Linked DNA regions of Homo sapiens. The protein of the gene in region 1 interacts with the protein of each later gene in a pairwise test. Each region holds a gene or a part of one and is shown on either strand. Other genes may lie near its edges. The genes, in order: GALNT12 and HPX.

What was found.
Region 2: the proteins of GALNT12 (region 1) and HPX interact in binary tests that used the Homo sapiens proteins (3 or more experiments, as listed by UniProt).

Annotation. Positions count from the first base shown.
Region 1 is NC_000009.12:98,829,899-98,845,714, forward strand, and holds part of GALNT12 (polypeptide N-acetylgalactosaminyltransferase 12), read left to right. Parts: intron 1-1,841; exon of another isoform or gene 1,842-1,850; coding exon of another isoform or gene 1,851-1,873; coding exon 1,874-2,059; intron 2,060-5,350; coding exon 5,351-5,468; intron 5,469-7,073; coding exon 7,074-7,250; intron 7,251-10,103; coding exon 10,104-10,235; intron 10,236-14,197; coding exon 14,198-14,311; intron 14,312-15,816. UniProt on the Homo sapiens protein: Catalyzes the initial reaction in O-linked oligosaccharide biosynthesis, the transfer of an N-acetyl-D-galactosamine residue to a serine or threonine residue on the protein receptor.
Region 2 is NC_000011.10:6,433,585-6,450,321, reverse strand, and holds the start of HPX (hemopexin precursor), read left to right. Parts: upstream 1-9,334; 5' UTR 9,335-9,358; coding exon 9,359-9,441; intron 9,442-9,591; coding exon 9,592-9,650; intron 9,651-9,783; coding exon 9,784-9,855; intron 9,856-10,035; coding exon 10,036-10,157; intron 10,158-11,812; coding exon 11,813-11,966; intron 11,967-12,669; coding exon 12,670-12,882; intron 12,883-13,144; coding exon 13,145-13,276; intron 13,277-16,737. Other genes in the region: TRIM3 (tripartite motif-containing protein 3), read left to right, coding at 876-1,016, 1,142-1,294. UniProt on the Homo sapiens protein: Binds heme and transports it to the liver for breakdown and iron recovery, after which the free hemopexin returns to the circulation.

The DNA.
Region 1 (15,816 bases):
AATCTTGGTTATTGTGAATAGTGCTGCAACAAACATGAGAGTGCAGATATATTTTCGATACACTGACTTCCTTTCTTTTGGATATGTACGTAGGAGTAGAATTGCAGGATCATATGGTAGCTCTATTTTTAGTTTTTTGAGGAACCTTCAAACTGTTCTCCATAGAGGTTGTACTAATTTACATTCCCACCAACGGTGTGTGAGGGTTCAACCTGGGGAGCTTTTTAAACACACCAATGCCTGGTCCCATTTGGATCTAACTCTTGGGGCTGGGGCCTCGGCTTCTGCATGTTTCAAAAGCTCCCCAGGGGACTTTGGTGTGCACGAGCATTGGGACACATCAGACTGTGGACTCTCCCTAAGGTGGCCCCAGACAGGAGTGGTAACCCTTTCCATCCAGGGGCTTTTGGAAATGTGGGAGGGTATTCTTGGTTGTCATGTCAACCAGGTAGGGCTCCTGGCATTTTGTGTATCAGGGAGGCCAAGTATCCTGCAGATCAGCCCTGTTCAGTGGAGAATGGTTCTGGCCCAGATGCCAATAGCATCCCTGTGGGTCCTGCACATTCTCCAGCCACGACTGGGAGTCCTATACTCCAATGCTGGTACAGCATTCCCCTAGTTTTCCCCTCCTTGTAAAAATTAGGCTTTCTGTGGTTCCAGCCAGCTTGATCACAAGCCATCAGTTCCTGGGGGAGCTGGCCTTTGCCAGGGGCCAGCTAGAACTTGCCCAGCAGGTCTGATGTTGGCCCTTTCAACCTTTTAAATAATGCCCTCAATTGCTTTAAATAAGCGGATGTTGGTGGATACCTAGTATGCAACTTCCTCAATTTGGGGAACTCACAGATCTAAGACCCTGTCTCACGCAACCTGTTCTGAACAGTGCAATTTCCCGATAGTTGTAATTCTTACCCCAGAGTGGTATTTCTAATATCCCCTCTGACTTTCTGGTGTCATTCTAAGGACACCGAAAGCTCAAGTCTGGTTGATCTCTGTTGCACTGTCCTGTGTGGCAGGACTCTTAGGATTTTTAGGTCTCAAATTCCAGACAACGTCCCCCAAAATGTACTCAAGGAAATCTAGTGTTCACACGTGGTCTAGTCTCAGTCCATCTTTCCTGGTGTAGTGGCAAATGCAAAGAAACACGGCCTGGAAGCATGCTGAGGGATGGCCAGATTTGTAATAATGTGGAGAGAACCGTTGAAGCCAACACACAGGCTGATACCTGCAAAAGGAAATTATAGCATTTTTCACTATATGTAATATTTCACAATAACAAACATTAAAATAAAAAAATAGCAATAGTTTCAGGTTCTCTGCCAGCTATCTTAAAAACATTTTCCCAGGAAGTCCTCACATTAACCCTCTGAATGGATATTATAATTCCAGTGTTACCACTGAGGCAATAGGCTCTGAAGTTAGGTGACTTGGCTAATGTCACACAACAAATAAATAGCAGGATTAGAATTTATATTCTAATTCCAAAGCTGACCCTTTGGTCTGGGTGCACCTTTGTTCTTAGGAGATAAGTATTTCTTGATGTTAAGGTGTTTCATTGTGATTAAACCTCTTGCACTTCTGAGAAATTGAAATCATAGAGCGTTTGGTCAGAATGTCCATGGATAGAATCAGAGCATATTAAAGTCATGGGACTTTTTGTTTTAAAGCCCTCCGTGGCCCCCAGATCTCCCCCATGGTGGTCACCTGCCAGGGCTCTGACACGGCTGCAGACACCTGGAATAAGAGAAGCAGGTCTTTCTCAGATGTTCCTCCCTCTTATTGGAAGGAAGACAAGAATTCACCCTTGAATTTCCCAATTGTCTTCCTGCTGCCCGTCTGCATAGGAGAGACGGATGGATGTCTTGGGTGCTTTCAGGATCCATGAAGAGGAGTCGGCAGTGGTGTGCCCGGTGATTGATGTGATCGACTGGAACACCTTCGAATACCTGGGGAACTCCGGGGAGCCCCAGATCGGCGGTTTCGACTGGAGGCTGGTGTTCACGTGGCACACAGTTCCTGAGAGGGAGAGGATACGGATGCAATCCCCCGTCGATGTCATCAGGTCAGGAGCTGACTTCTGGGTGACTTGTTTTTTAAGCATGCCTCATTGAATCTGGCTGACCTGTGAGCGGAGGCCCTCGGGAGGAATGGTTAGCTGTCAGCTTAACTACCTCCCCTCTTCCCACTTTTTTGCCCAGAGTATTTGTTTATTTTTATTAAACGTGTCTGCTACACATGTCAATTTTATATCGGTATATTTTATTTATTTAATTTTTAAATTGTGGTAAAATATACATCATAGAGAATTTACCATTTTAACCATTTTGAAGTATGCAATTTTAGGCTGAGCATGGTGGCTCATGCCTATAATCCCAGTACTTTGGGAAGCCAAGGTGGGAGGATTGCTTGAGTCCAGGAGTTTGAGACCAGCCTGGGCAACATAGCAAGAACCTATCTCTACAAAAAAATAAAAATTAGCTGAGCATGCTAGTGTGTATCTGTAGGCCTAGCTAGCTGGAAGGCTGAGATAGGAGGATCGCTTGAGTCAAGGAGTTCAAGGCTTTAGTGAGCTATGATCACGCAATTGTACTGCAGCCGGGCGATAGAGTGACACCCTGTCTCTATAAAAAAATAAATAAATAAAACAAAGCATGCAATTTTAGTGGCATCGAGCACATTCACGGTATTGTGCAAACATGATCTTTACCTATTTCCAGGAATTTTTCATCATCCCACACAGAAAATATCCCCACTAAGCAATAACTTCCCATTCTCCCCTTCCCAGCCCCTGGGAACCTCTGTTCTTTCAGGCGCCCCATGTGAGTGGAATCATACAATATTTGTCCTTTTGTACTTGGCTTCTTTGACTTATCATCATGTTTTCAAGTTTCCTAGAGAACATCATTCCTTGTGATGGCTGAGTAATATTCCTTTGTACATATATGCTACATTTTGTTTATCCATTCTTCTGTTGGTGGACACTTGGGTTGTCCTTTGGTTATTGTTAAATAATGCTGCTATGAACATCGGTGTACTTTTATCTGCTTGAGTCCCTGTTTTCCATTCTTTTGGGTATACACCTAGGAGTGGGATTGCTGGTCATATGCTCATTCTTGAGGAAACATCTTTAGGCCCCTTTGACCTGGGGTGTGGGTGGATCCATGGCAGGTGGAGGAGTCTGCTCTGGCCAGTGGGTGAGTCAAGCTCTGAGTAGAATGGGCCCAAGGGAGGCTCAGCAGCTCTCATTCTGGAGGTTTTGAAGTGATAGCCTGGCTTCTTCCTCCCCTTCCAAGTTCAGAAGCAAGTGGGAGACAGATGTGGGAGTTGGGCAGGAGGAGGTCAGGACTTCAGCCTCACCGCTGGTGTGTTGAACCGGAAGTAGGCTCTGAGTTTTGCGTCCACATTTGGCAGTTGGGCTTCTGAATTCTTTCACCAGAGTCCTGACCTTAAGATGACCCGCTGCTGGCAGGAGTGGAGCAAGCAAGGAGAGTGTCCAGAGATAAGGCTGGAGAGATGGGCGGGGCCAAGGGAAGGGGTTTGGACTTGACCCTGAGCAGGTAGAAGCCACTGAAGGGATCGGAGCAGGAAGTGACCTGAGCATGTGCTGCGTGCCATGTGGTGAGGGCCCTGGGGGGACCGTTGTAGGCAGGGATACCATTAGGAGGCTCTGCAGTCTTCCAGGTCAGAAACAATGGTTCAGGAGATGGTGGGCACTGTGGATTCCAGAGATGTTAAGATGGAAGAATTGGAAGAAATTGAGTGGGAATTGGGGAAGGAAGGAATTAAGAATGGCACCCAGGCTTCTGTAGGAGCCCTTAGTGAGAACATCCTGCTCAATCCCTCACTGAATAGGTTTGGAAACTGAGACACAGAGCAGGAGGCTCTAATCTAGGCTACTTAGGCAGCCTGTCATGAATTCATGGGGGTCCATGAATTCTAATTGCCCCGTTACCCCACATGCTCAGGGCACCTATCCTCCCCATCCCATAATATCCCTGTGCCTCAGTTATCTCATCTGTATAATAGGTACCAGCATATCCACCCTGCTTATTTCCTAGATTTTTAGGATAAACACACGTGAAGGTGCTTTGTAGTCTAGAACCTTCCCTTCCACTGGGGATGTTGCTGTTGTCTTCTCAGTTGGCCCCATGCTTGGAGTCCAGGGCAGGCCCCGATGCTGCAGGATGTTAACATTTTCAGTGGTTGCGCTCTCAATGTTCTCTTTCCCTATTTTTTTTTTCAAGTTGGGGTCTCGCTTTGTCACCCAGGCTGGAGTGCAGTGGCATGATCTCAGCTCTCTGCAACCTCTGCCTCCTGGATTCAAGTGATTCTCCTGCCTCAGCCTCCTGAGTAGCTGGGATTATAGCTGTGGGCCACCACACCCAGCTAATTTTTGCATTTTTTTAGTAGAGACAGGTTTTCGCCATATTAACCAGGCTGGTCTTGAACTCCTGACCTCAGGAGATCTGCCCGCCTCAGCCTCCCAAAGTGCTGGGATTACAGGTATGAGCCACCGTGCCCAGCCCTTTCCCTATTTCTGAATTCATCCTTTTGCCTGTGCAACTCTGGGACGTGCTGACCTTACAGTGTTCTGCCGTGTAGGCTGGAAGCCGTGGGCCGTTTCTGGTTAGTGCTGGCTTCCAGATAAACCTGGTGGTGGGTGGCGGGAAACAAGGCTGGCTGAAAAAGCAGCCTGAGGCTGGCTAGCTGGGTCCTAGTGGAGGAAACCACTCAAGAGGACCTGGCCCTCGGGGCACTTTCAGATGCCAGAGTTGCCTTTAGGGCCTTCTGCATACTGGCCTCTGAGTGGCATCTGTGAGTGCCTGCCTTGTGAGATCACACCTCCTCAGATGACCATGGCCTGGAGCCTGCCTTCTTCTCGGAACGTGGTCTCTTGCTTCTCTCTTCTCCTTGCTCTCTATGCTTCTAAATGTCCCTGGATTTCTCCCACCCTTAAGCCTTTGCTCATGCTGGAGAACCATTCCATTTCCCTTCTTCTTCTTGGCTAACTGTCCTTTGTCCTGCAGACCTTGCTTCCTCCAGGGAACCTAGTCCTGCCCTTTTGCCCCTGCCCTCCTCAGTGTTCTCCCAGGGCCCTGGCTGACCTTAGTTAACATATTTAGCACACACATAGTACTTACCTGCTGAGAAGCCTGGGAGCCACCTCAAGGCAGGGACCGTAGGGTACATCTATGCCTCCAGGCCCAGCCTAGTGTGGGGCACAGAGGTGAAGGCGGGATATGCTTAGAGATGACAGATGAACAGATGAAAGGGCTCGTGGTGGGAAGGTAGTTGGATAACTGTGATGGTTTTCTGCTGTCTACAGTGAAATAAGGATATCATACTTTTTTAGGTCTCCAACAATGGCTGGTGGGCTGTTTGCTGTGAGTAAGAAATATTTTGAATATCTGGGGTCTTATGATACAGGAATGGAAGTTTGGGGAGGAGAAAACCTCGAATTTTCCTTTAGGGTAAGTATTTCAGTCTTCTCTTTGGACATGTTCTTAACTGATTCTCTCTTTGGGAACGATGGGATTTGCTGTAAGAGCCTGGTGGACCCTGAAAGATGATGACACGCATATCCTATAAACATGCTTGCTTTCTTGTTTTAGCTTTTTAAAAAGTGTACTTTTTCTAGATTTGGGGCCAGCAAGGGCCTTGCGAGTCACATAGTTCTCTCTCACTCTATGGAGAGGAGGAAATGAAACCAGGAGAGAGGTGACTTGCTCAGGGTTAGGTTCCTCCTGATCCTGTCTTCTGGAGCCTTTACTTGATTAATTCCTTATGAAGTGGCCTCTTTATTTAGCACAGTGCCTTTCAAACTTTGACAGATGTAAGAATTTCTTTTTTTTTTTTTTGAGACGGAGTCTCGCTCTGTCGCCCAGGCTGGAGCGCAGTGGCACGATCTCAGCTCACTGCAACCTCCGCCTCCTGTGTTGAAGTGATTCTTCTGCCTCAGCCTCCCGAGTAGCTGGGATTATGGGCATGTGCCATCATGCCCGGCTAATTTTTGTATTTTTAGTATAGACGAGGTTTCACCATGTCATCCAGGCTGATCTCAAACTCCTGACCTCAGGTGATCCACCCGCCTTGGCCTCCCAAAGTGCTGGGATTATAGGTGTGAGCCACTGCACCCAGCCAACACATGTAAGAATTGCTGGGTAAACTTGTTAGAAAGACAGATTCACAAGCACAATCTAGAATTCTAGCTAGATTTGATAGCTTTAGGGTGGGACCAAGATTCTGCTTTTTGTAACAAGCCTTCCTACTGATGCTACTCTACATGGCCCGTGAAAACCGTATTGGAAAACTCCTAGCATTTCAGTAGATTTTCCAGTTAATGAAGTCTTACATTTTAAGCATCAAAACTTTGTGTAAATGTTGGTGCTTTTCAGTGGAAAATTAAGATTTTTAATAATATTTTATATGGTGTTCTGCCCTCATAAAAACTGAATAAACAAGAATTTGGCCTTCTACCGAGGACTCACGCCCTCTGTAATAAGTACCAGATGCTGTGCTTGGTTGTCCCATCTTTGGGAAAATGAGATATTCAAGGCTGTCAGTCCCAGTGTGAGATGGGCTCAGATGCCTTCGCCTGTTGAGTCTTTGGGTGTGCTTTTAATGGTCTCTCTGCCTCTTCCTTAGGTGTCAGGCTGCTCTACCTGTTTCTAGACGCTCTTCCTTTCCCCCTTCCAAACCTCTTTTCTTCCTTGCTGCTTTCCTATCTTCTGTGGCTAGGAGATCAGGTAATCAAGCCTGTGTTTTCTGTAATGAGTAAGTGGGTTGCCAGCGAGGTCTCTGTGGATGCTCCTGTGAGTCAAGTGCATGAGCTTTAGTGCATGGACTTTGGGGTCTTGGTTCCCACAGCTTATATGTTTTGGGGGCTGCTTTCTTGCTCTTTACCCACATTCTGTGTCATGAGTGTGCCGGGTAGGTGGCCTCCTGCCCGATGGAGGCTGAGCATCTTGGCAGTGTCCATCATGCCTTGCGTGTGCCTGGCCTCTTTGCTGCAGATACTATGGACCCGCAGCTCATCCCCTGCTCACCACCTGGCCTCTCCTTTTCTCTGTGTGCAGATCTGGCAGTGTGGTGGGGTTCTGGAAACACACCCATGTTCCCATGTTGGCCATGTTTTCCCCAAGCAAGCTCCCTACTCCCGCAACAAGGCTCTGGCCAACAGTGTTCGTGCAGCTGAAGTATGGATGGATGAATTTAAAGAGCTCTACTACCATCGCAACCCCCGTGCCCGCTTGGTGAGTTCCTCGGCCCACCTGCACTCCATCTGGCTTCATCTGAACAACAGCAGCTAATCGTGGCTTCCCCAACATAGTCGATCTGGTTCCAGAAATAGAGAATAAATTGGGTGCTCAGATACGAGTAAGGGGAGAATTTATTCCTCCATTTATAATAATTATATGCAGTCAAATCTTCTTATTTACAGCTGTTATAGTGCATAAAGCCACCACAAATGCTGAATTCATGAAAACAGAGCCATTGTTCTTAGGGGAAATACAGGGTTAGGTTCCTGCCAGACTTGGGGCACAGTTTTGTCAGCAGATCAATACAGAACCTTGTTTTCTATGTGTTTCTGTTCAAAGACACCTGTTTAACATATATCGTTGCATCATTAACATTGCACTCATGGCTAACAGCACGGTAACTCATGCCAGAATGAAGCTTACCTAGCACGTGTTATTTTCTCTTCATCACAACCTTCTTGCATTTAGGAACACTAGGTAGCACTTCAGCACTACGACTGGGGGACATTCTAGAATAGCTGGTGCAGTCACCAATACAAAGCAGGAAAAAATGTGGTGCCCAACAGATGGTGAAAAGAACACTGGTTTACAGGATGAGAGCTGAAACAAGAAGGCGGTGTGTGCCCTTGTTATATATCACCTGGAAATGGGAGTTAAGTGTTGGGCAACTCAAATTTTTTGTCCATGAATGTGTGTGAAAATTAGAAAACACCACAAGTATTGATTTGGAGGTTACAAATCAATTTTATTATAGCATGTAGGGAAATTCAGATACAGAACCAGTAAATAATGAGGATGGACTGTACCAACATAGATAGTTGGGGATACCTGGTGTCACAGGCCAGGCATTGTCCATGTGTTTTGGTTTTCCTCTTTGTAGCCAGTAGGGTGAGTCCACAAACACAGGGTACAAGTTAAGGCACAGTTCTTTACCTTAAAGCTATTGCTCAGGGACACATCCGCCTTATTAGTTAGGGGTCTGTTACCTCCCTCTAGAGCCTTCTTGTTAGCACCCTGGAAGCTTCCTTTTCTAAAACAGGGAGTCTGTTCTGCTTCCATTTCCAGATGGAAGGACTACTGGAGAGTGGCCCAGGCCCCCGCTGCTACTCTTTCTCACCATATGTCATGGTCATGGAAACCCCCCCACCGCCAGCCTAACAGATGTCTATCTTCCTCCCCACTCAGAGGCCTTGCTGGGCCCATCTCTCTGACCAATGGTGAAGGTGTGCCTGCAGTCACTGAAGTCTCAGCTCAGTTGGCTTGCTCCCCTGGGTCTCAGCCACACACTACAGGGACACTGGCCCATCCACCCACTGCACTGAGTCTGTCGGAGGCTGAGGTTCAGCCCAGACTGTGTCCTTCCTCATAGCGATTTATCTCAGGGACTTGTTTTCTGGTCCGGATCCTTGCTCTGCCTCTACCTCCGGGACCATTGTGGATGAGGGATCTGCCTCTTCTTTCCCAGGTCTTGGGCTTCAGATGAAACACAGTCCACTGCCTCTGCCCCAGCCAGCTCTGCATGCTCCATGGCAGGGTGCCTGCTTGCCCTGCATTTGCATAACTAGTAGGGCTGCTTGGCAATACAAGAAGGTCTTGCTCTAAGGCTTCTCATCAGGCCACTTCATGGAAGTCTCTTCTGAGTCCTTCCAGCAACCCTGCAGGGTAGCAATAAAATTCTCATTTTATAGATGAGAAAACTGAAGCTCAGAGAGACGCTGTTGGAAGGAACTTGTCCAGGCCCTGTGGCTGATAGGAGGTAGAACTGGGCTTGGGGCCTGTACTCTGCAGCGCACCTCTTGCTCTGCTCTGCAGAGCCCATGGGTTCTCAGCTGGACTCCCACTCAGCCCCTCTCTGGCTCTGGGCTCCATGGTCATTTGCTTCTGCCTCCTCCGTCTTGCCCAGCACCATAGAGTAGAAACACCCACTCTTTCCTCATGCACAGTCTGGAACCCATAGTTCCCTTTTCCTGAGGGTTCCCAGAGAATATTTTAGGGGGGCACTGAATGCACCCTTAGGCTTCATGTCCAAGGCCAAGTGCTAAATGGATACTTGGCTGAAGCTGGGGGCGCAGTGACTTTCACCAGTGAAAGAACTCTGGGAAATAGCAGAAATCTGAAATCTTATTCAAACATGTACTTATTATTACCATTTTGTTCAATATTTAACTTGTCAGCTTTTAATTGTTTAACATGACAGTGCAGGTACGGTAATATTTCTGCACTCAGCATTTTTCTTGTGGCTGCACATTTGCGATACTAAATAGAGGCTTGCTGTATTTAATTATTCAAAAGCTCTCAGTCATTAGTTTTGCCCATAAAACCAAACTTGCATAAGTATTTCTTTTTGCTTATTTCATACTGAGAACATGATTACATCTAGAATATTTACCTGTGTTTGAAAGTGGATATTCAGATATTAGTAGTAAACCAGAAAGTCATGGCATATGTTTCGGTGAAACTGACATTTCCCTGGTTGGGTTTCAGGATGACTTCTGATCACAAGCATGGGTCACAGGTCCGGGATCCATAGATGCCAGTGCAGCCCCAGGGCTTGGCTCCTTCACTCCATCAGCAGGCGGGTTGTCCTCTACCCTTGTGCACCTGGTCACACCCCCCTGCCAACAGAGCACCTAGGAATGGAATTGTCTGTGTGACAGCCTCTCATACTAGAAGCTAGAATTAGGTGCAAGGATGTTTTCTATCCTCTGTGCTCCACACAGGGCCTGGCATGCGACGAATGCTCCATCAAAGCTGGCTGGTGGTTAGTAAGTGAGCATCAGTGAACACAGGGGCTTTGAAAGGAAGCACTAGGACCCATGGGGTCTCACTGTTTTGTTGTTTTCTCAGGAACCTTTTGGGGATGTGACAGAGAGGAAGCAGCTCCGGGACAAGCTCCAGTGTAAAGACTTCAAGTGGTTCTTGGAGACTGTGTATCCAGAACTGCATGTGCCTGAGGACAGGCCTGGCTTCTTCGGGATGGTGAGTGAGGGTGGTGGGCCCACGGCAGGCAGGGACTTCCCTGGCCTCTGGGTCTGCTCTGCAAATCCTGGGCAAGAAAGGCCACGTCATGGGGAGCACTGGCTTCCTCCACTCCCACCCGCCTGCCCACCCCCCACCACCTTTTTATCCACTGCCCTTCTTTCTCCCTGTGAGCGTCTGGGCCGTAGGTGCAGAATGTCAGAGCTGGAAGCCATCTCAAAATTGACAACTATTTTGTAGGTAAGGAAACTGAGGCTTATCTGGTGTTTCCATGTCCTAGTTTTTACCAACGCCTTATCATATTACTTCTAGTCTCAATGGCTGGACTAGTTAATAATTCCAAGTTTGGAAGTCTACAGAGGCAATAGTGGGTATAGGGGAGTCACTTCGAGTATTTCAAAAAACCTAAAAAATGTTTTTGGGATGAGACCAGATAAAATGTCCAGTGTCTTTTGTTTTTGCTGGGAATGACACCAGCTTAGCAAGGTCTCCTCTGCTGTGATGTGTTGATCAGAAGTGCTGGTGTTCCATTCTAGAAGTCTTTGATACATATAAAGCAGGATATTCATGTTACATTCTATTTTCATTATGAAAATATTCAAACATATAGAAATGCAGAGAGAATGGTATGAGAATGGTATAATGAATACCATCCCTGAGATTCTAGAATTTTCAAGATCCTGCCTCTCTTTATCTCTTTCTCTCTCCTGTACTTCACCTCCACATTTTCCTCTTTTTAAGCAAATCCCGGGCATTGTGTCATTTCTCTCCTCTGCATTTTATGCATTTTCATAACATTTGGACATTATCTTACAAAACCGTAGAAATGAACAAGTATTTCTTGGTATCATTTAATGTCTAGTTCTAATACATATTCCCCCAACTTTTCCAGTTTCTCTTTGAGTGGCTGGCTAATTCGAATTGGGATCCAAACAAGGTGCACACATTGCATGTGATGGTTGTGTCTTGTCTCCTAAATCTCTTTTAATCTAAGGCAGCCCTCTTCCTTTTTCTTGTTAATATCTTTAACTTGTTGAAAAAACAATATGTTACCTGTGGAGTGTCTCACTCTTGCAATTGCTATTTTTTTCTTTGTGGTGTCTTCAAGTTGTGCCTCTCTCCCCCATATTTCTTTAAGATAGAAGTGAGTTCTAAAGGTTTGATTAGAGTCAGGATCCACCTTTTTGGCAAGAACACTTTGTGGGTGATGTTATGTGTTCATGTTGTGTCATATCAGGAGCATAGGAAGTATGGTCATCTTTAGTGATAAGGTTGACCAGTGGGTTAATGGAGTATCCCTCACCTGGACCAGTCATTATAAGACCCCCATCAGCCTCTGTCTCATGTTTTTAGTAGCCACTGATAACCATTGCCTAGGCCCATTATTTCAAATGGAGTTGCCAAATGGTGATTTTTCTCTTTCATTTCTTCCACATTTATTAGCTGAAATTTTTCATAAAGAAGAACACTCCCTCATTAACTAAAGCAATTTGGTATATGTGAGTTTTAGAATTCATACAGAAAAGGCACGACAAATTCTTTTTTTTTTTTTTGAGAGAAAAGTCTTGCTCTTGTCCCCCAGGCTGGAGTGCAATGGCGCGCTCTCAGCTCACTGCAACCTCTGCCTCATGGGTTCAAGCAATTCTCCTGCCTCAGCCTCCCGAGTAGCTGGGATTATAGGCACCTGCCACCATGCCTGGCTAATTTTTTTTTTTTGTATTTTTAGCAGAGACGGGGTTTCACTATGTTGGCCAGGCTGGTCTTGAACTACTGACCTCAGGTGATCTGCCTGCCTCAGCCTCCCAAACTATTGGGATTACAGGCATGAGCCACCATGCCCGGCCAAGGCATAACAAATTCTTAAGTCTTTTCTTTATTTGCTTATTTTCAGAGTAAGAGTTGGTATTTTAGTTTCCTCCAGTTGTATCTACTGGGTTGTTTTTTTTTTTGTTGTGGCTCATTGTTTTTTTTGGCTTTTTCTCTTCTTGAGTGTCATTGTAAACTAATGGGTGTTTAAATAGCCGGTGTGCTTCAATCAATTCATCTTTTCTTCTTTGTATTGTTTTTTGAGACAGGCTTCTATTCTGTCACCCAGGCTGGAGCACAGTGGCACCATTGTAGCTCACTGTAGCCTGGATCACTGGGCTCAAGTGATCCTCCCACCTCAGCTTCTTAAGTAGCTGGGACTACAGGTGAGCACCACCACACCTGGCTAATTTTTTATTTTTATTTTTAGTAAAGACTAAGGTCTCGCTATGTTGCCCAGGCTGGTCTTGAACTCCTGAGCTCAAGCATTTCTCCTGCCAAGGCCTCCCAAAGTGCTGGGATTACAGGTATGAGCCACTGTGCCCAGCCCAATTCATCTTTTTAAAAAATATATGAAAATTGTTTTTGGCCAGTGGGAGTCCCTTTATTTTGGCTTCTGAGGTCTTTGACACCTTACAGTGGCGTTGATAGCCTCCTTGATTCTGGCCAAGTTGTCCCATTCGAGTTTTAAACATTTCCTGCCATTCCTCCCAGAAGCCCTGCTCCTTTGTTGGGTAACGGTATTGGGAGTCAGTCTGGATGCTGGCGGTGCCCGTTGCTATGCGTTGTCATTGCCTCCAGACCATGCAGTTTAACAGAAATATAATGAGAGCCACCGTTGTAACTTAAATTTTTTTAGTAACCATATTAAAAAAAAAGTAAAGTTAATGAAATGTTTAACTCAGTATATCCCAAATAATATCATTTCAACATATAATTAATATAAGTATTTATTCATTGAGGCATTTTACATTCTTTTTTCATACTAAGCCTTGAAATCTGGTGTGAATTTTATACTTATAGCATATCTCAATTTGGATTAGTTACATTTCAAGTGTCCAGTAGCCACAGTGGCCAGTGGCCGCCACATGAAATAGCACAGCTCTAAATTTTTCTCATTGGGCAGAGAAAGGAAATTCGTATTTTTGAGAAACAGATCATGAGCTTATATTAATATCTGAAAATCCAATGTAGTCTTGAAAAATTTTCTTTGATAGCATACTCATATTTCTTTTTTCTTACCCTGAAAATCTTGGTTTTAAACAATATTAACATAATTACTTATTTTCTTTATCCTAAAATATATTGAAAATAGTTTCAAGATAATTAATACAGTACTACAGCTTAGAGTATTATACTGAATGAGGTTTATAATTTCTTTGCAGCTCAGTTTGTTTATAGAATATATTTCATAGGTGGTATTTTCAAACATACCATGCTCTAAAGTGATTTAAATTAATTCTTTTTTTTTTTTTGGTGGTGGGGAGGACAGAGTCTTGCCTTATTGCCCAGGCTGGAGTGCAGTGGCATGATCTCAGCTCACTGCAACCTCCGTCTTCTGGGTTCAAGTGATTCTCCCGCCTCAGTCTCCCAAGTAGCTGGTACTACAGGTGCACCCCACCACACCTGGCTAAGTTTTGTATTTTTAGTAGAGATGCGGTTTTGCCGTGTTGGCCAGGCTGGTCTAGAACTCCTGGCCTCAAGTGATCCACCTGCCTCCGTCTCCCAAAGTGCTGGGATCACAGGCATGAGCCACTGAACCCAGCCTAAAATAATTCTTTCTTTGTGTCTATCGCCTGCTTGATTTAGTTAGCTTAATTAATCTAGTTCGAGGTATCAACCCAGGTATATTTGGACTTGCACAGCAGTAAGGCTGCTACTAATGAGAAAGAAAGAGAGAGGAGCTTTCAGGCCATGAAGAGTTTATCTCTCTGGTCCTCAGGCTTATCAACTTAAAATAGGGGTAAGGATTCTTGCCTGCAGAACAAGGAAGCACTTTTAAAGCTAGAAGGTGCTGTACAGAAAAGACTCTTACCTTTGCGTCTAGCTCTTGAAGCAGGCTCTCCTCTCATGCCAGGTACCCTCCCCAAGCCTTGTGTGGCATCTGTTAGTGTCTATAAATCTGGACTGAAATGCCACATTTATGTTTTATTTAGCTCCAGAACAAAGGACTAACAGACTACTGCTTTGACTATAACCCTCCCGATGAAAACCAGATTGTGGGACACCAGGTCATTCTGTACCTCTGTCATGGGATGGGCCAGAATCAGGTAGGTATGAGCCTCAAAAGAGGAGAAAGCTGTGTGTTTTGTTAAAAAAATTAAATAGTTGAATTTTTTTCTTGTAAAAGTAATATTTGGGAAATATAAAAAGTAGAAGCCTAGGGTGGCCAGACTCAGAGAGACCACTGTTAAAATTAAAATGTGTTTTCTTCCCATCATTTTTTACACATAACACACAGAGATTATGTGTTGTAAATAGTTGTCATAATGTCTGTATGTTTTATATTCCATTATTTCCATTCCCTTCATCTACTTTTCTTATGTTATTAGATACCCCTTGAGAATATCATTCCTAGTGGCCACTTGATATTTCATTTTGTACCTGTATTACTGTTTCGTTAACTGGTTCCCTGCCTCCCTGTCTTTGCAATTATAAATAACCCTGCCTCTAACACCTTGGGTCAGACAGAAGGAAGGATAAAGTAACAGATCTGCATTTCAGATGATTTCCTTAGAATTAATTGTTAAGTGGAATGACAGGTTTAATGCATAGGGCCACCTTGCAAGGTGGTGTTTAGGGACATTGCCTCAGCTGGGGGCCAGGTGTATCTGTCTGGGTGAAGGGCTGTAATTCAGGCTGGGCAGGGGAGATTCAGTCCTGGGGGAGTCTGAAGACCAGAAAAGGACCCCCAGCCCTGGAAAGCAGTTGACAGGACCCTTGGAGGATGCAGGAATGGAGAGAAGTGTTGGTTCTGGGCCTCTGAAGCTTCACCGTACCAAGGAGTTATCAGACACCAGGAAACAAAGGGATAGAGATTCAGATGTTGTTTTTTCCAATCTGGATTCACCCCAATGCCACTTGAATATGAGGCCTTCTTATGGTCAAGAGTAAACTTTCTTAATTCCAACCCCTGCAACCTTAAATTATTTAGGTTTTCAACACTGTTTAGAACAGCCTTCCTCAAAGCTGATGGTACCTGAGTGCTACCATCAGCATCATCTGGGAGCTTGGAAATGCACATTTTCAGACTGATCCCAACACTACCGAATCCCAGACTCTTGTTTTAAGCAGCTTTTCAGGAGATAATGGTGTGACAAGCCCTGCTCTGTGCGCCTTAAGAACACCCACCTGTGTCAGAATTTTTGAAAGGGGCTGGTGGGGTGGGTGGGTGTCTTGTCAAAGATGCAGAAAATGCAGCTTCCTAGGCCCCACCTCACACATAAGGAATCCTTATTCCGTCTCTGGGATGGGGCCAGCAATCAGCATTTTTAACAGTCACTGTAGGTAGTTCCTAGTACACTCAGGTAGGAAAACCATTGTCCGGGAAGAACCAAGTCTTCCCGTTAGCGGTCACATTGTCTGCTTGTGCACAGCACTTTACATCTTCTAGGAACTGTCATATTGGGGGTTTGGGAGGAGAGACTGAGGAAAAGGAGAGGAAGTAGCTAGTCAAGGTCACAGAGAGCCCCCAAGAGCTAGTGCTGCGATGGGTCCATTTCCCTTCCTCCCATCCCACACCAACACAGCATTCAGCACTGCAGGCAGGAGGTGA
Region 2 (16,737 bases), on another chromosome or scaffold:
GGAAGAGAAAAAGGTAACCAAAAAATTACAATATGATGTAATAGATTCTGTGATAGGAAGGTGCAGGGAACTGTGGGAAGGGATACAGAAGTGTATGATTCAGGAAAGACTATATGAGGAGGACCTCAAGCACAAGTGGGAATTAAATGGAAGGCAGAGGAGGACGAGAGTGTTTGAGACAAAAGACACAGGAAGAGCCAAGAATGCAAGGTGGGAACCTTAATAGTGTGTTCGAGAAATCACAAGTAGTTCAGACTCAGCTTGAGGAGGGGACCGTGAAAGCTGAGAGTGAGGCTTGTGTGCCCCCTTAAGGGGCTTGCTCTCCTCCCAAGAGCTATGGGGAGTCACAGGATTGCAGGCAGGGGAGTGATGCAGTCCTGTGTGTCTTAGATCACTCAGGCTGAGGCAAGACTGAGACAGGAAGATCAATCTTTTGCAGTGATCCAGATGAGAAATGATGTGAGCCTGGACCGTGAGAAAGACGAGACAGTGTATGCATAGGGTATAGACTTGAGAGAGGGATTTGAGATGGAATCAAGAGTTGTGTTAATTCATTGGCCTATCAAACAGAGAAGAAATTGGAGTCAAGAGTGACTCATGGCCAGCTGGGTGGCACCAGTCATTGAGATAGAGAACTAAGAGAACTGATTTCCCAAAGAAAATGAGCTGTTAGATTTGATATTCCCAATGGACATCAGCAAGAGATGTCTACTAGGCAGTAGGGCACATGGATGTGAAGCCTATGAAGCAGATTTGGGCTGTAGCTGTAGATCTGGGTGGGGGTTCTCAGCCCTGGGGCTTCACCCTATCCTCCTCCAAAGCCCTACCCTCTGCCTGAGGCCAGGTCCCCAGTCCCTAGCCCCTTCCCCCGCCAGGTGTACAGTGCCGATGGAGAGTTCCTCTTCAAGTTTGGCTCCCATGGCGAGGGCAATGGGCAGTTCAATGCCCCCACAGGAGTAGCTGTGGACTCCAATGGAAACATCATTGTGGCTGACTGGGGCAACAGCCGCATCCAGGTGAGTAAGGCCTGGGAATGACATGAGGGGGCGGTTTCCTGGTGTGTCCCATATGCCCGTTCCCCCAAAACAGACTCTCATCTGCCTGATCTTGCCTCTCCCTCCTTTCTGCACTCCTTCCCCAGGTATTCGACAGCTCTGGCTCCTTCCTGTCCTATATCAACACATCTGCAGAACCACTGTATGGTCCACAGGGCCTGGCACTGACCTCGGATGGCCATGTGGTGGTGGCTGATGCTGGCAACCACTGCTTTAAAGCCTATCGCTACCTCCAGTAGCTGTACAGAGGCCCTGCCTGGCTTGTGGAGGGACAGACATTGGGGTGATTGGACAAGAGGGTCTGGCTGGGAGGTGGGCCAGACCTGGCAGCACTGAATGTGGGCTGTGGGCATGGGTGCACCCGGTGCCCTCCCTCTCCTACCCCCACCCCCACGGTTGCACTTTATTTATTCGGTTCTTGCTTTGGTGACTGGGTGAGCCTGGACTGTGGTCCCAAGGATGTGTGCAGAGCTTCACCCTACCCTTCTTACACACCTCCCCACCCCTGTCAGTCTGCTCCCCATCCCCCAGCCTGGGGCCAGAACAGCCTACCCCAGGACAGGAGTCCCTCTAGTTGTCTCCCTACCACCCTATACACACTGACAGAGACAGCAATACCCCACCCCCCATATTAAATAAATGTCTTCACCAAGATGTTTTTGCTGGGTTCTTGTGGGGTGGGGCTGCAGTGAGGAGATGGGATGGTGGGACTAGCTCTGGACTAAAAGGTGGGCAAGCAGGCAGGCAAGGGACCCAGCTTCCCAAGCAGGTCCTGATATTTTGAAACTTCCGTAGAGAAGAGCAAGAAAGGGTGAACCCATGGGACCCTGACCCACCTGCCATATCCCCATCCCCAGGCCCTACAGAAGTAGGCAAGTCCTTTGCCTATCTGCCCTGGGGCTGGGAAGGATTGTGGGGTTGGGGGGGTGAGGGAATGACCTCTGCCCAGCACACAGCCAGTAGGTGCAGAGAGAACAGTGTCAGGCTATGAAAGCAATCTTTGAAGTTCAAGCCTGGGCAAGGGAATTGAGGCTAGCCCAGGTGGTAGCTACGTGTGGGAGACTCCATGGCTAATTTTAAAAGTCATCCCTGAATCCCTGGAGCCCTGACATATCCCCTTTCTCACATTTCCAAGACTGCTGCCCCTCCCTGCAGTGGAATTAGGGTCTTCACATTCTCTCCTGAGCTCTAGACTGCCAGAGTTTTACTGCTATCTCCAGAGAGAATTGAAAGCAGCATTCAGTGATGATTTGGCAAGTAGGGACTATGATTTCTCTCTCTCTCTACAAAAGACTGAAGCTCACAGAAATAGGTCATATTGTTGATGAAGAGCAGAGCCCAGATTTGAATATGTAGCTGTCATACTCCTAACCGGTGAGTTATAGCACCCCGTTCACCCTTATGCCCCTTGCACCTGGCATGATGGCTGGCAGAGAAAGCACTCAACAAGATTTGGGGAACGTTGGATCTGGGAAAGTTGATCATGAGAGGTCATGGAAAAGATCAAGACATCGATCTGGTATAGCACAATTCTGGGGCTAGGAAAAGAGGGACTATCCATGGATCTGTGGAAGACCATGGGGGCTTTGTAGAGAACAAGGGGGTCCCACTTGGACTATATGGAAAGTCTTGGTTATGCTTACCTCCCTGGTCCTCTCTGCCCCACTAGCTGAAACCTGACAGATAGGCCAGGCACAGTGGCTCACGCCTGTAATCCCAGCACTTTGGGAGGCCGAGGTGGGTGGATCACCTGAGGTCAGGAGTTTGCGACCAGCCTGGCCAACATGGTGAAACCCTGTCTCTACTAAAAATACAAGTATTAGCCAGGCATCGTGGTGGGTGCCTATAATCCCAGCTACTTGAGAGGCTGAGGCGGGAGAATTGCTTGAACCTGGGAGGCACAGGTTGCAGTGAGCCGAGACTGTGCCACTGCACTCCAGCCTGGGCAACAAGAGCAAAACTCCATCTCAAAAAAAAAAAAAAAAAAAAGAAACCTGATAGATAGGTGGAGGGACCGATGAGCTCCCTGAAGATTTTAGTGCAGGTGCTCTTATGGAGCCTGCCCCTCTGGCTCTGATTGTGAGTGGAATTGCCTAAGCCCATGCCCTGGTCAGCCGAGATGGTGTGCTCAATTATCAGTCGCTCAGCACCAGTGGAGTCCTCCCCGAGAACTCTCAGGTGATGGTCTATTTTTCTGCACCCCTATCTTGAGCAAGGCACCAGAAGTAATACAGAATGGAAACTCAAAGCTTCCAGCCCTCAACCTGTCACATGTTTACATTGTGAACACCTAAAAGTAGCAGGGGAATAAAAAGGCAGTAAGGGTGACCTTCCTTGGGCGGGATGCTGCAAATGGCTCTTCTGCTAGCCCAAGAACAGGCTGCTAGGGCTGATTTCCATAGATTCAGATTAGGTAGTCTTCCCATGCCATGGAAAAGGTACATCAAGGTGGAGTCATTCTGTTCCTTCTAAATCCAGCCGTGGTGGGCATTTTCTTTCCAATTCAGGCCTTGGGGCCAAGTAGATGAAAGTAGTGCCTGACAGTGGAGGCCAAGTCTGGAATGATTGTCACAGATTTGGGGGTCACAGCAAAGCCCCTGCTGTCAGAATGTTATTTTGTGGTCCTGCAAGGGTTCACACTTTGCTCATATAGGGCTGTCTGGTGACCAGAACAGCCCTATGGCCATTTGTGGTCTGCGGGTTCATTTATTTATTGAACAAGTATTTGTTGAGCACTTAATATTAGACAGAGTAATGGGCCCTGGGAATACAGAGAAATGGTCCCTGCCCTTATTAAGCTTATAGTCTAGTGGAGAAGGGAGACAAGTAAGCAACAAGGAACTAAATGTGTAATAACAATTTGAGTTCAAGCTGTGAAGGAAATGAACAGAATACAATGATAGACAATATAGTGTTAAATAGAGTGGACAAGGAAAGTCTCTTTAAGCAGTGACCTGTAGGGTTGGAGCAGGGTGGGTAGGGAACTAGCTGTGTTAAGAAAAGGAGATAGAGATTTTCAGACAAAGGAAAAACAGGTACAAACATCCTGAGGGGTTGAGATCTTGATGTGTTTGAGAATCTGAAAGGAGGCCAGGGTGACTGGAGAGGAAGGAGGGTGGAAGGAGAGAGGAAAGGAACAAGTTTGGAGAATTAGGCCTGACTTCGATCATTTAACTAAGATAAAGAGCTTGGATTTGGTCTGGAGTATGACAGTAAGCCACTGAAAAGTTTAAGTGATAAGGATGAAAGGGATGCCCTGTGAAACAAACTTTAAACTGGGCAGTGATTCTGTGGGGTAGGAAGAGAATTGAGAAAGAAAATCAGAAAACAATTCAACTTCTCTAAACTGTTCCTCTTGAAGACTGTGTATACATTAGAATTACAACTGACTTCGGCCAGGTGCAGTGGCTCCCGCCTGTAATCCCAGCATTTGGGAGGCCAAGGTGGACAGATCACAAGGTCAGGAGATTAAGACCATCCTGGCTAACACGGTGAAACCCTGTTTCTACTAAAAATGCAAAAAATGAGCCAGGTGTGGTGGCAGGCGCCTGTAGTCCCAGCTAATCGAGAGGCTGAGGCAGGAGAATCACTTGAACCCAGGAGACGGAGGTTGCAGTGAGCCGAGATCGCGCCACTGCACTCCAGCCTGGGTGACAGAGTGAGACTCTGTCTCAAAAAAAAAAGAAAAAAAAAAAAAATTACAACTGACTTCAAGAAAAAATTTTAAGCAGGAGCATAAGGTGATCTCAGATACGTTTTTAAAGATCACTGTGGTTGTTATAAAGAATGTGTTGTAGAGGAGCTATTTCAATGGTCACACAAGAAAAGGTGGTGTTTGCATTACTAAAGAGGCAGAGAGAAATGGACAGATTTTATGTATAATTAGGAAGTAGGAATAATAGGATTCAATATTTATTAAATACATACAGTATTTCAGGCGTGTTCTCAGTGCTGAAGATATAGCAGTGACTAAAGCAGGTAGGATCCTTGTCCTGTACACAAAGGCAGCATGGTAGACTGTGGGGTGCTGGAGCTGGCTCATGAGAGCTGATTGTCAAATTTAGAATTTTGAGAGCTGGTTGTTAAAACACAGCTATTATTAAAAATCAAACTATATAAACTTAAATACATTCTATTAAAACCAAAGATAATCAGTACTTAAAAGTAATCACTTCCTAATTATTTTACTACATTTTACTATCCCCTGTGCTCTTGTGATTATTTATATCTATCATATCTGTATGGTAGGAATATTGTATGCAGTGTGTTACTGTACATCCCTTCCCAACTCTACATTTGGTGATGTCTTGTCGGTAGCTTAAAGTTGGCCATGGTAGGAGTATTTATATCACAAAAATCTGCAAATGTTACAAATCAGTGCTTTTTCCCCCTAGAGAGCAGTTGTTAAATATTTGCCAGCGAACCCCTTGATAAGAACACACTATCCTTGTAGGAACACACCCCTAGGAGTCAGGCACCCAGGGTTTAAATCATGGCTCTGCCACTTGCTAGCAATGTGATTTGGCTAAGATACCTAATATTGGCTTCCTCATTCATAAAACGGGACTCATAGTGCTACCTTTGTCTGTTTGTGCTGCTATAACAAAATGCCCATGACTGATGATTTATAATGAACAAAAATGTATTTCTCACAGTTCTGGAGGCTGGGAAGTCCAAGATTAAGGTGCCCAGCAGGTTTGGTGTGTGGTGAGGTCCTGGTCTCTGCTTCTATGATGGCATTTTGAACGCTGCATCCTCTAGAGGAGACAAATGCTGTTCATCACGTGGCAGAAAAGCAGAGGAGAGAGAATCCACTTCTGAAAGCCCTTTTTATAGCAGCATTAATCCATTCATCGGGCAGAGCTCTCATGACCTAAACACCTCTCATGAGGCCGCACCTCCAAACACTGGCACATTGGGAATTAAGCTTCCAACACATCAATTCGGAGGGGACAGAAACATTCAAACCATAGCAAGTGCTATATACATGCTATATATATATATATATAGCACTAAGGCCCATTATAGACTGAGCAAGAGGAGGGGTCAGCTGGGATCAGCAAGCTCTTTGGCTGCCTGGAGCTTTATCCCTAAGCCTCCTACCCCTGAGGAAAGGAGACATTCAGTTCCTGCTCCCTGGAGTATACAGCCACAGACTTCAGGCCCAGCACACCTAGCACTCAGTGGGCCCAGGAGAAATGGCTAAGGTCAGAGAACTCATATCAACAGCAGAGCAGGCTGGACATAGACATAGCCATTCCAAGGGACAGTGGGTCAGTGTCCAGCTTACATCTGGCTCTTGGCAATGCAGGAGGAAGCTCTGTCATTTGCAGACATTTGCAGGTTCGTGTTCAGACCCCTTCTGGGAGAAGTAAAAAAGCTGCTGGTTAGGAGGATAGAGAAGACTACCCAGGAAAAGAGATGGTTGAATTTCTCTGGGCTCGAGTTCCCAGAGAAGCAAGAGATTGAGGTCCCCAAATCCACTCTGGGCAGCAAGGTTTGCAGAAGAAGGGAAAGAAGCATAGAAGGGTGTGTACCACTAAGGATGCACAGCCAGGGCTGAGAGGAGTGTGGGACAAAGGCTGTGGAGAGCTAGTTTCAGAGAGGAAAAACTCCTGGGCTCTGGCCTCTAGTTGAAGGGCGGGAGTGCACTGATTCCTGCGGCCTGCAGGGGGTGCTCAGGCCCAAGTACCGACAAGCTTCTTTCCTCAGCCCCAGTAGGAAGCCTGGGAAGGACCCAGGACCCACAGAAGGGGCCTCCTGTAGTGAGGGGAAGAGAAGCAAGGCTGCTGAGTCTTGACTACCCTGAGAAGTCTTGGCTTGTACCCTGTGACCAACACCAGGGTGGCCAACATATCCACAGCCCTGGGTTCCCAAATGTGTACAATGTTCTACTTTCAACTCCTGCCCAAAACTTGAACTTCAACCTGGACTGCCTGCAGTGCAGATGACTCTGCTGGCCTAGTCCCTGGGTGGAGCAGGAGGATCCAGTAATGGTTTCTAAGCCATTCTCGGGTACACAGGTGAATTAGGAAGCAACAGGGAAAAGGGACCATAAAGTAGTATTCTGGGATAGATGGATCCGGGGTGCTGTGAGGGGGACCACACCAGGTGTGTGGGGAAGGGGTCAAGCTGAAAAATGATCATCCAGTATATGTGCTGTATGCCCTCAGACAGCCCTGTTAGGCCAGAAGGAGACTGCACCCTTGGACTGGCAAGTCAGTGCAAGGCCCTGCTAATAGGACTATTGAAGACTCTCACTATGGGTTTTCTGTGGGGTGTTTGTTTCTTGGGGTGAAAGCTTCCCTCTCCCCAGGCAGGCCCAGCAAAATCTGTAGGATTCAGACAGGGTTCTGACAGCTGAAGACAAGTTGTTGAGGAAATTCCTGATGGAGGATCATGGGGTGCTCAGGAGGGAGAATATAAGGTTTCAGAGGCTGAGAGGGAAAGAAAAGGTGAGGGGGAGTCTTAGAATAGTGGCTCCCATTGCCCAACACCCAGAAAGAAGACATGCCCTGCAATGGGGAGAAGGTGAGTATGAGACATTGGCTGTAGCAGCGATGGCATTGCCCAGGCTGCCAAGGACTCAGAGAGTCCAGCCTTGCCCACTGACCTATGAGGAGGGAATGATGTTCACAGCACATTTTCATTCGTAAGTCAGGAGAGGACATTGAGCCTGATGGCAGAGGCCTGGTGACATGTTGTTCCAGAGGTTCCGGAATGTGTGTTTTCCTGTTGGAAGGAAACTTCGCAGAGTAGAAAAGGGATCTGAGACTTTTGGTAAGATTATATATGGGACTGTCAGGGGTCTGGAGCCATCTGTGAGGGATCAGGGCCCTTTCAGCCTTGGCTAGGGAGCAGGGGTCCTGGAACTTCATCCTGGCCCATAGCTGAGTCTGCCCATAATTCTTTTCTGACTCACTAGGCAAATCTCACACAGAAATGGGGCAGCTTTGGGAGTGGGCCCAGGAAGTACTGAGGATAGCAGGTGAGATCCCAGGAAGAGATGGATGTGGGGCCGAGACACTGGAGAGAGAAACAGGACTGTCAGATAAAGGGCGTCTGTGACTCCTAGATCTCATTATGCCTACTACCATAACCTACCCCCAATTCCTAATATTCTCCTACCCTAGAGGGGGGGAAATTGTCAGAAATTTGGCTGCAACACTAGCAACACTACTCAGTACTTGAAATGCATTTTTGCATTTTTTTCATTCAACAAATATTTCTGGAACAACTCTTATATGCCAGGCACTATTTTAGGAGTCAGGGATATATAATGGTAAACAAGACAGGCAAAACAAAGCAAAGCAACAACAACCATCACCAGATAAGTAGACAGATGAAAGAATTTCAAGTTTTAGTAAGTAAAATAAAACAAGCAAGGGTCTGAAATGGCTAGATAAGGTGGTCAAGAAAGGCTTCATTGAGAAGGTAGCATTTAAGCAGGAGTCAGCTAGAAATATTGTGAAATTCCAGTTACAGTTCTATTTGTTCTGGGTTGGTTAAATAAAGCTTTTTCCCCCAAGGTGGAAACTACCAAGAAAGACTAATTACTAGTAGTGGTGGTGCTCTCTGGAAGAGAGACACCTCCTGTTTCTGCCTCATTACTGTCAACCCTTCACTTCCAGGCACTTTTTGCAAAGCCCTTTGCCAGTCAGGGAAGGCGAGAGGCTGGGCATGGGGCTTGGACATTTGACAACAGTGAGACATTATTGTCCCCAGACTCACTAGCCCAAGGGTAAAGCTGAAGAGGCTTGGGCATGCCCCAGAAAGGCCCCTGATGAAGCTTGGAAAAAGCTGTTCTCTGAGTATTTCTAAGTAAGTTTATCTGTGTGTGTGGTTACTAAAAGTAGTAAGTATTGCTGTCTCTAGCTGCCTTAGAGCAGGGCTTGACACAGTACACAGCAATATTAGTTCCCTCCTTTTCTCACCTCCCCCATTGTGGAGATAAACTCAATCACAAAAGGTGATCCTCAGTCTACTCACTTCCCTGACTTATGGATGCCTGGACCCATTGCCAGTGTGAGAGTCACAGCTGGACGTCAGCAGTGTAGCCCAGTTACTGCTTGAAAATTGCTGAAGGGGGTTGGGGGGCAGCTGCCGGGAAAAAGGAGTCTTGGATTCAGATTTCTGTCCAGACCCTGACCTTATTTGCAGTGATGTAATCAGCCAATATTGGCTTAGTCCTGGGAGACAGCACATTCCCAGTAGAGTTGGAGGTGGGGGTGGTGCTGCTGCCAACTCTATATAGGGAGTTCAACTGGTCACCCAGAGCTGTCCTGTGGCCTCTGCAGCTCAGCATGGCTAGGGTACTGGGAGCACCCGTTGCACTGGGGTTGTGGAGCCTATGCTGGTCTCTGGCCATTGCCACCCCTCTTCCTCCGTGAGTAAAGCTGGGACTAGAAGCGAAGGATTGAGTTCTGGGCTAGGGTAAGGTAGGGCCAGTTTTTAGGCCTCGGTCAAATTTGGGGTCAGGGGCTATGGGAAAGGGATCGGTCCCAATGGATCAAGATATCTATTTTGTTCTCCCTAGGACTAGTGCCCATGGGAATGTTGCTGAAGGCGAGACCAAGCCAGACCCAGACGTGACTGGTGAGGCCCTGACTCCCTAAGTCTGTCTTATCTGTCTGGTTGTGTCTCTGCATTTTATCACCTTCTGGTTTTTTTTTTTTTTTTTTTTTTTTTTTTTTTTTTTTACTTTGCCATCTCCCTACCTCCACCCCAGAACGCTGCTCAGATGGCTGGAGCTTTGATGCTACCACCCTGGATGACAATGGAACCATGCTGTTTTTTAAAGGTAGGAGGGACTGAGGTTAGGGCGTTTAGGACCTTAGACTTACTCTCCTTCACAAAGGGTGTCCCTGTCTGTGGGAGGTCTTAGGAATTATCTGATGGTATCACTGACAGCTTCTCTCAAGCTATCTCAGTAGGTCAAAGGTTTCTCACTGGGCCCCTCAGTGAGTGTGGGTTTTTTCAGGGGAGTTTGTGTGGAAGAGTCACAAATGGGACCGGGAGTTAATCTCAGAGAGATGGAAGAATTTCCCCAGCCCTGTGGATGCTGCATTCCGTCAAGGTCACAACAGTGTCTTTCTGATCAAGGTACTGCTGGGCCAAAATCAGGGCCAGGCTGGAAAGGGCTGGAATCGACACTGGGGACCCTTCCCCCAAATGGCCTTGGCATGGAGCCCATAGCAATAGGTAGCAGATTTCTTTCCCATGTGCCCTCCTTTCCTGTAAAAGCTTGGGCTAAGGGAGTGTGCATGCGTGTGGGCCTGGCAGGTGCACCATCCAGTGGCTGTTCTTCAGTCCTAGTCTTAGTTCTACACCGCTCTGCTGTACCTCACACTGCTGGCCATCCTTTTTTTCTCTGGCAATTGCTTCCCTTGCCTTCCATGACCCTGTATCAAGTCCTCTTCATAGGGCAAGGCAAGTTGTTCCCAACACAATGGCACCTGGCTAGAAGAGCATGTGGAGCATGAAATCCAGTCTGCTGTGCTCACCAAGTCCCATGTGACCCAGGCTGTGTCTGCTCAGAGGAAGGGGTGCCTTTTCCTACCTTGCCAAAGGTGCTGTGTGGTTGGGGAAGTCCTGACTGTCGGCTTTGTTTTCCCTCCTGCCTCTTTTCTCTCTCTTCTCAAATGTCTCATTCTATCTCAACCAGTTCCCTAATGTTCCTTGGGGATCCATCCTAGCCTTTCCATATACCTTCCCTCAGTGATCTCAACCATCACCTTGGCTCTGAGGAATATCTATGCTGTGGACACTGGATCTAGATCTACTTTCTGAGCTCCAGACATCTCTTTCCAATTGTATGTTCTACAGGCACCTAAAATTCAGCATCCCCCAAACTAAGCTTTGCATCTTCTTTACAAACCAACCTTTCCTCCTGTGTTTCCTGTTTCAGTAAATGACCCCAAAATGTGCCTGATTACTACAAACCAAGTGCACACAGGGTCTCATGATCTGGGCCTTGGTTATCTTCTCAGGTTTATCTCCTCCCCTGCCACATTCACTGTGTGCCAGCCATACGAATCTACATGAGGTTGGAGCACACTGCTTCCTCATGTTTGGGCTCTGCATGCTGCTCCCTCTGCTGGTAACACCCTTTCCTCACTTGTCAACCTGGAAAATTCCTGCTGATTTTTCAGCTCTTGGGCCCAATGCTTCCTCTTTGGTGTGAAACCTTCCACAACTTCTCTAGGCAGACTTAGGCACTCTGTCTATATTCTCAGTGCACTCTTTACACTACACCTTGGTAGTTGCATGGCTAGGATTGCAGGAGTCCTTTCTGCTTTTGTACAGTGAACTTCCTGAAGTGAAAGACAGAGTCTTGTTATCCTCAGTGCCTCTCACAATGCCTGGCATATAGTAGTTATTCAGTGACTGTTTCTTGGATGAATGAATGAATGAATAAATAAATGAAGAAATGAATGAAGAAATAACGTATGGGTGATTGCAGGATGAACAGTTGTGGATATGTTTGTCAACACTGATAGTGTTGCAGATAAATGTGCCACAGGAGTGTCTGGGTACAGAGCTAGAGGCATGTGTGTTATAGTAATAGTGACTGGATTTGCACAAACTGAGAGTGTGTAATGTGCAAAAGGACAGCACATTGTTGTCCACAGATGGACTGAGAATGTGTAGGGCCACAGGAGGATATCGTATAAGCACAGTAGATAAAAAATGTGTGTAAATGCAGAGTGGCAGTATCTGGGGATGCACAGTCAAAAAGAGAGTACTTTTGAATGCAGGGGGACAAAGTCTGGGTATACCCTCCTGAAAAGAAGGAGAAAGGATACCCAAAGTTGCTCCAAGATGAATTTCCTGGAATCCCATCCCCACTGGATGCAGCTGTGGAATGTCACCGTGGAGAATGTCAAGCTGAAGGCGTCCTCTTCTTCCAAGGTCAGTCCAGGCTGGAATCCAAGAACCTGGAGTAGTGGTGGGTTGGTAGTGATGCCAGTAGTGATGGTGATAGTGGTAGTGATGGTGGTGGTGGAGCCACTATGTGGCTTTTTAAGGAAGGGAAATAGAGAAGCCACGTATGGTCTAGAGGTCACGTGAGGGAAGGAGAGGAAGTCATTCTGGTGAAGGCAACTGTGTGTAATTCTGTGTGAATAGTCCCTCATTGTTCCCCATGACCCTTAGGACAAATCTACCCTCTTTAGTCTTACATACAAGTCTCTCCATGGCCAAATCCCTATTGGCCCTTCAGCTTTGACTTTTATTATACTTTTACCTTAACACTAAGCTCCAGAAACCCTATGCTATTCTCTGTACACTCAGTTTGCTCCATGCTTTGGAATCTTTCCTCTCTCTGGGGTTCCATCTCTCCTTGTGTGCCTTTTAATTCCTACTTCAGATTTCACTTTAAGTATCATCTTCCCTGGGAAGTTTTCCCAGACTCTCCCCACTGCCTTTGCTGAGCTGATCCTGTGTGTTTTGCTGCTGAATTTTGGTGTATGATCACCCTCCTTTAGCCATCTCTCTGATGGCTGTGAGCTCCATGTGGTCAGTACCATTATCTGGCCCATCCTGGGACCCAGAGAAAGCACAAAGGAGGGCGTAACCCGGTCTCACCAAATGCCTGTTGATTGATTGGACAAAGGTGACCGCGAGTGGTTCTGGGACTTGGCTACGGGAACCATGAAGGAGCGTTCCTGGCCAGCTGTTGGGAACTGCTCCTCTGCCCTGAGATGGCTGGGCCGCTACTACTGCTTCCAGGGTAACCAATTCCTGCGCTTCGACCCTGTCAGGGGAGAGGTGCCTCCCAGGTACCCGCGGGATGTCCGAGACTACTTCATGCCCTGCCCTGGCAGAGGTGAGAAAGCCCTAGCACTTGAGACCTGTCAGAATTCATCCACTTTCCCTGAGCTTGTGGATCTCACGTGTCCTAGCTCTCACTTTAACTCCGTGTTGCGACACCTTGGCCCTTAATCTAGCCCCATTTCCATTCTGGATTTTCCCATTGCCCTCATATGGGGAAACCCACACCCCACTAACCCCAGCCATCTCTTCCACCTTGGACCTCACTCTGACCTCTGGCCTCCTTCTGTGTTCTCCTCACCCATTTCTCTCTCCAGGCCATGGACACAGGAATGGGACTGGCCATGGGAACAGTACCCACCATGGCCCTGAGTATATGCGCTGTAGCCCACATCTAGTCTTGTCTGCACTGACGTCTGACAACCATGGTGCCACCTATGCCTTCAGTGGTGAGAGATGCCCCCAACTCCCCCAATGTGCTCTCACATCTCTTTTACTTGTATCTCCCATCCTTGACACATTTCTCCATTGTCATCACTGTGTCACTTATTTTGTCCCCTCTGTCCCCATCCTTCTGCATGCCCTTCTGCATCCCTCATCTCTGAGGCATATTTCTCAATCTTGTCTGTCACGGCCCAAGCCCCTAACTTCATCTACCTGTCTACCATCTACTCCCATGGCTGTGCCCCCTGTGGACCTCTCTGGGCCCCTATGACTCCTTGTGTTCTCCTTGCTCAATGCCCTGCTGAGCCCTCTGGCTCTCCCTTGCTCCCTGGACCTCTATGTGTCTCTGTACCTCCTTGCCTCCCTTTGTTCTTGCATATCTTTCTGAGTCCTCTGGCTCCCCCTGATTTATCCTCAGAACTCCATCTTGTTTCAGGTTCCTGGTTCCTATGTCCAGACCCCTGGGCATAGCACTGCCTGGGGATGAGATGTTCTCATTGCTGAGAACCAGCTGAGAAGTGTTGGGTACTTTAGACCTTTAGAGGCTGGCTTCACTAGCCTCTGGAGGTTTCTCCTCTGAGTAGCCAATGGAGATACCCCTCCCTTGACCCGTGGCATCAATTGGTAAAAGCCATCTAATAATACCTAGGGCTGTTCTGAGTTCAGTCAGGCAGTAAATAGTCATGCTGCACAGTTGAGAATATCCCCAAGAGGAGTGAGCAACCACATCACATCCAACCTGAGATATATGTATAATTAGGACAGTGGTAAGAATATAAAATCGTGAAAATATTTTTTTCACACAAAATTTTTTTGGCTCCTGACCCTTGGACAAATTTGACCAGTTATGACTATCAAGTTCTGTTGAAAAATACATCACCACATGGAGAGCAAATCTCCACAGCAGGATTGCACACTATAATAAGAACATACAGCTAAGATGAAACACACACCTGTAGTGAAAATACAACATTAAACTGAGAACATACGCCATAGTAAGAACACATAAGTATCAAGAGAACACACAGCCATGGTGGGAGCCCATTGGGAGGACACACAGACAAAGTGAAATGCAGAAAGAGAGAGAGAGTGAGTGAGAGATTGTGAAAACAGGGCCACAGGAAACACACAGAAATAGAGAGAGACACCAAGCCATCTAGAGATCACAGAACTTCAAGGCCATGTGGCCATAATGAGAATGCTACTGAACTCCTAAATGAAAAATGTCATGTATGTTCCATAGCTGTTGAGAGAGCCCACAGCATGGAGAGAACACCTTATATTAAAAATACCCAGGCCGGGCGTGGTGAGTCACGCCTGTAATCCTAGCACTTTGGGAGGCTGAGGCAGGTGGATTGCTTGAGCGGCTTGAGCCTAGGAGTTTGAGACCAGCCTGGGCAACATGGCAAAACCTCATCTCTACAAAAAATATAAAAATTAGTCGGGTGTGGTAGTGCGTTCCTATAGTCCCATCTACTTCAGAGGCTGAGCCCGGAAGGTCGAGGCTTCAGTGAGCCGTGATCGTGCTACTGCACTCCAGCCTGGGTGACAGAGTGAGACCATGTCTCAAAAAAAACAAAAACAAAAAACAAAACAAAACAAACAAACAAACAAAAAACCCATATATATATATATATACCTAGCTGAGGTGAGAATGCACTATTTTGGTAAAATCACCAACATGACCCAGCTACAGCATGGGGCAGTCCCTCCCCTCTCACTGGTAAATTTTTCTTTCTCTGACTCACAGTTTTGTTGTTGTTGTTGCTGTTGTTTGAGATGGAGTCTCACTCTGTCACCCAGGCTGGAGTGCAATGGCGCAATCTTGGTTCACTGCAACCTCTGCCTCCTGGGTTCAAGCGATCCTCCTGCCTCAGCCTCCCGTATAGCTGGGACTACAGGCGCATACCACCATGCCTGGCTAATTTTTGTATTTTTTTTTGGGTTACAATGTACTATTTATTAATTTAATTTTTGTATTTTTAGTAGAGATAGGGTTTCACCATGTTGGCCAGGCTGGTCTCGAACTCCTGACCTCAGGTGATCCGCCTGCCTCGGCCTCCCAAAGTGCTAGGATTACAGGCATGAGCAACCACGCCTGGCCCCTCATAGGTTTTTATCTATTCTCTTTGCTTCTTCACAACTTTGGCTTGCACGTGGACCATCATGTTCTCTCCACTTTCTCACTACTTCATGATCTTTCAGTCTCAGTTCCAACTGATACCTCCCTCAGTTGCTCTTTTTTCCTAGTAAGATTTCCAGAGAGGGAATCTGAATGGCCCAGTCCATATTTTCAGACCACACCACATTAAAGTGGTTGATTGCCAGCCTATGTATTGGCTACATTAATGGGTTGGGAACTCATCATTTACTTCATTGCACAAAGCAGCATAGCTCTGGTTCTCAAAATAGGGCCCCTGGGCCAGGTGTGGTGGCTCATGCCTATAATCCCAACACTGTGGGAGGCCGAGGGGGGCAGATCACTTGAGTCCAGGAGTTCTAGACCAGCCTGGGCAACATGGTGAAATCTCATCTCTACTAAAAATACAAAAAATTAGCCAGGTGTGGTGGCATGCACCAGTAGTCCCAGCTGTTCAGGAGGCTGAGGTGGGAGGATTGCTCGAGTGTGGGAGGCAGAGATTGCAGTGAACCGTGACTGTGCCTCTGCAATCCAGCCTGGGTGACAGATTGAGACCCTGTCTCAAAAAACAAATAAATAAAATAAAATAAATATGGTTCCTGAGCAGGGTAATTTCAGTGGGAAACCTCCCAGGGGAGGTGGATATGTCAGTCACCGCTGTATACTCAGTACACGGCTAATAAGAGAACTTGTGGTAGCAGCAAGAACACTAGGTATTTACTCAACAAATATTTGTTGAGCATCTGATAAGAAGTGGGCATTGTCCTAGGCACTGAGATACAGTAGTCAACATGGCAGACAAGATGCCTGCCCTGACAGGCTCTGCTAAAGTGAGAGAGGACAATAAGAAAGAGAAAGGAAGAAAGAGAATAATTTTAGGTAATATTAAGGGTTGTAAAGAAAATAAGACAGGATAGTGGGATAGAGGTGAGGAGAATGAGGGCTGTCTTCTGAAGAAATGATTTTTGAGCTGAGACTTCAGTGATGAGAAGGAATTAACCACACGATGTGCTGGAGGAAAAGCATTTTAGGGAGGGTGAGCAGCACATACTTCAAGGAATCAAGAAGGAAGCCTGGTGAGGCTGGAACACAGAGAAAGAGCAGGTGGGTGACTTGAAAGGGCAGGGACGGCAGTGGCCAGGTTACCTAGACCTGGTAAGGGTTTTCAACCATAAAAGGGAGTCATCAGAAAGTCTTGAGCAGGGCTGTGATATATTCTAACTCATTTTTTATAAAAGATCACTCTGACTTTTTGCAGAACATAAGTTATAAAAGTACAAGCATGTAAGCAAGGAATCCAGCTAGCAATCCGTGCAGTTGTCCAAA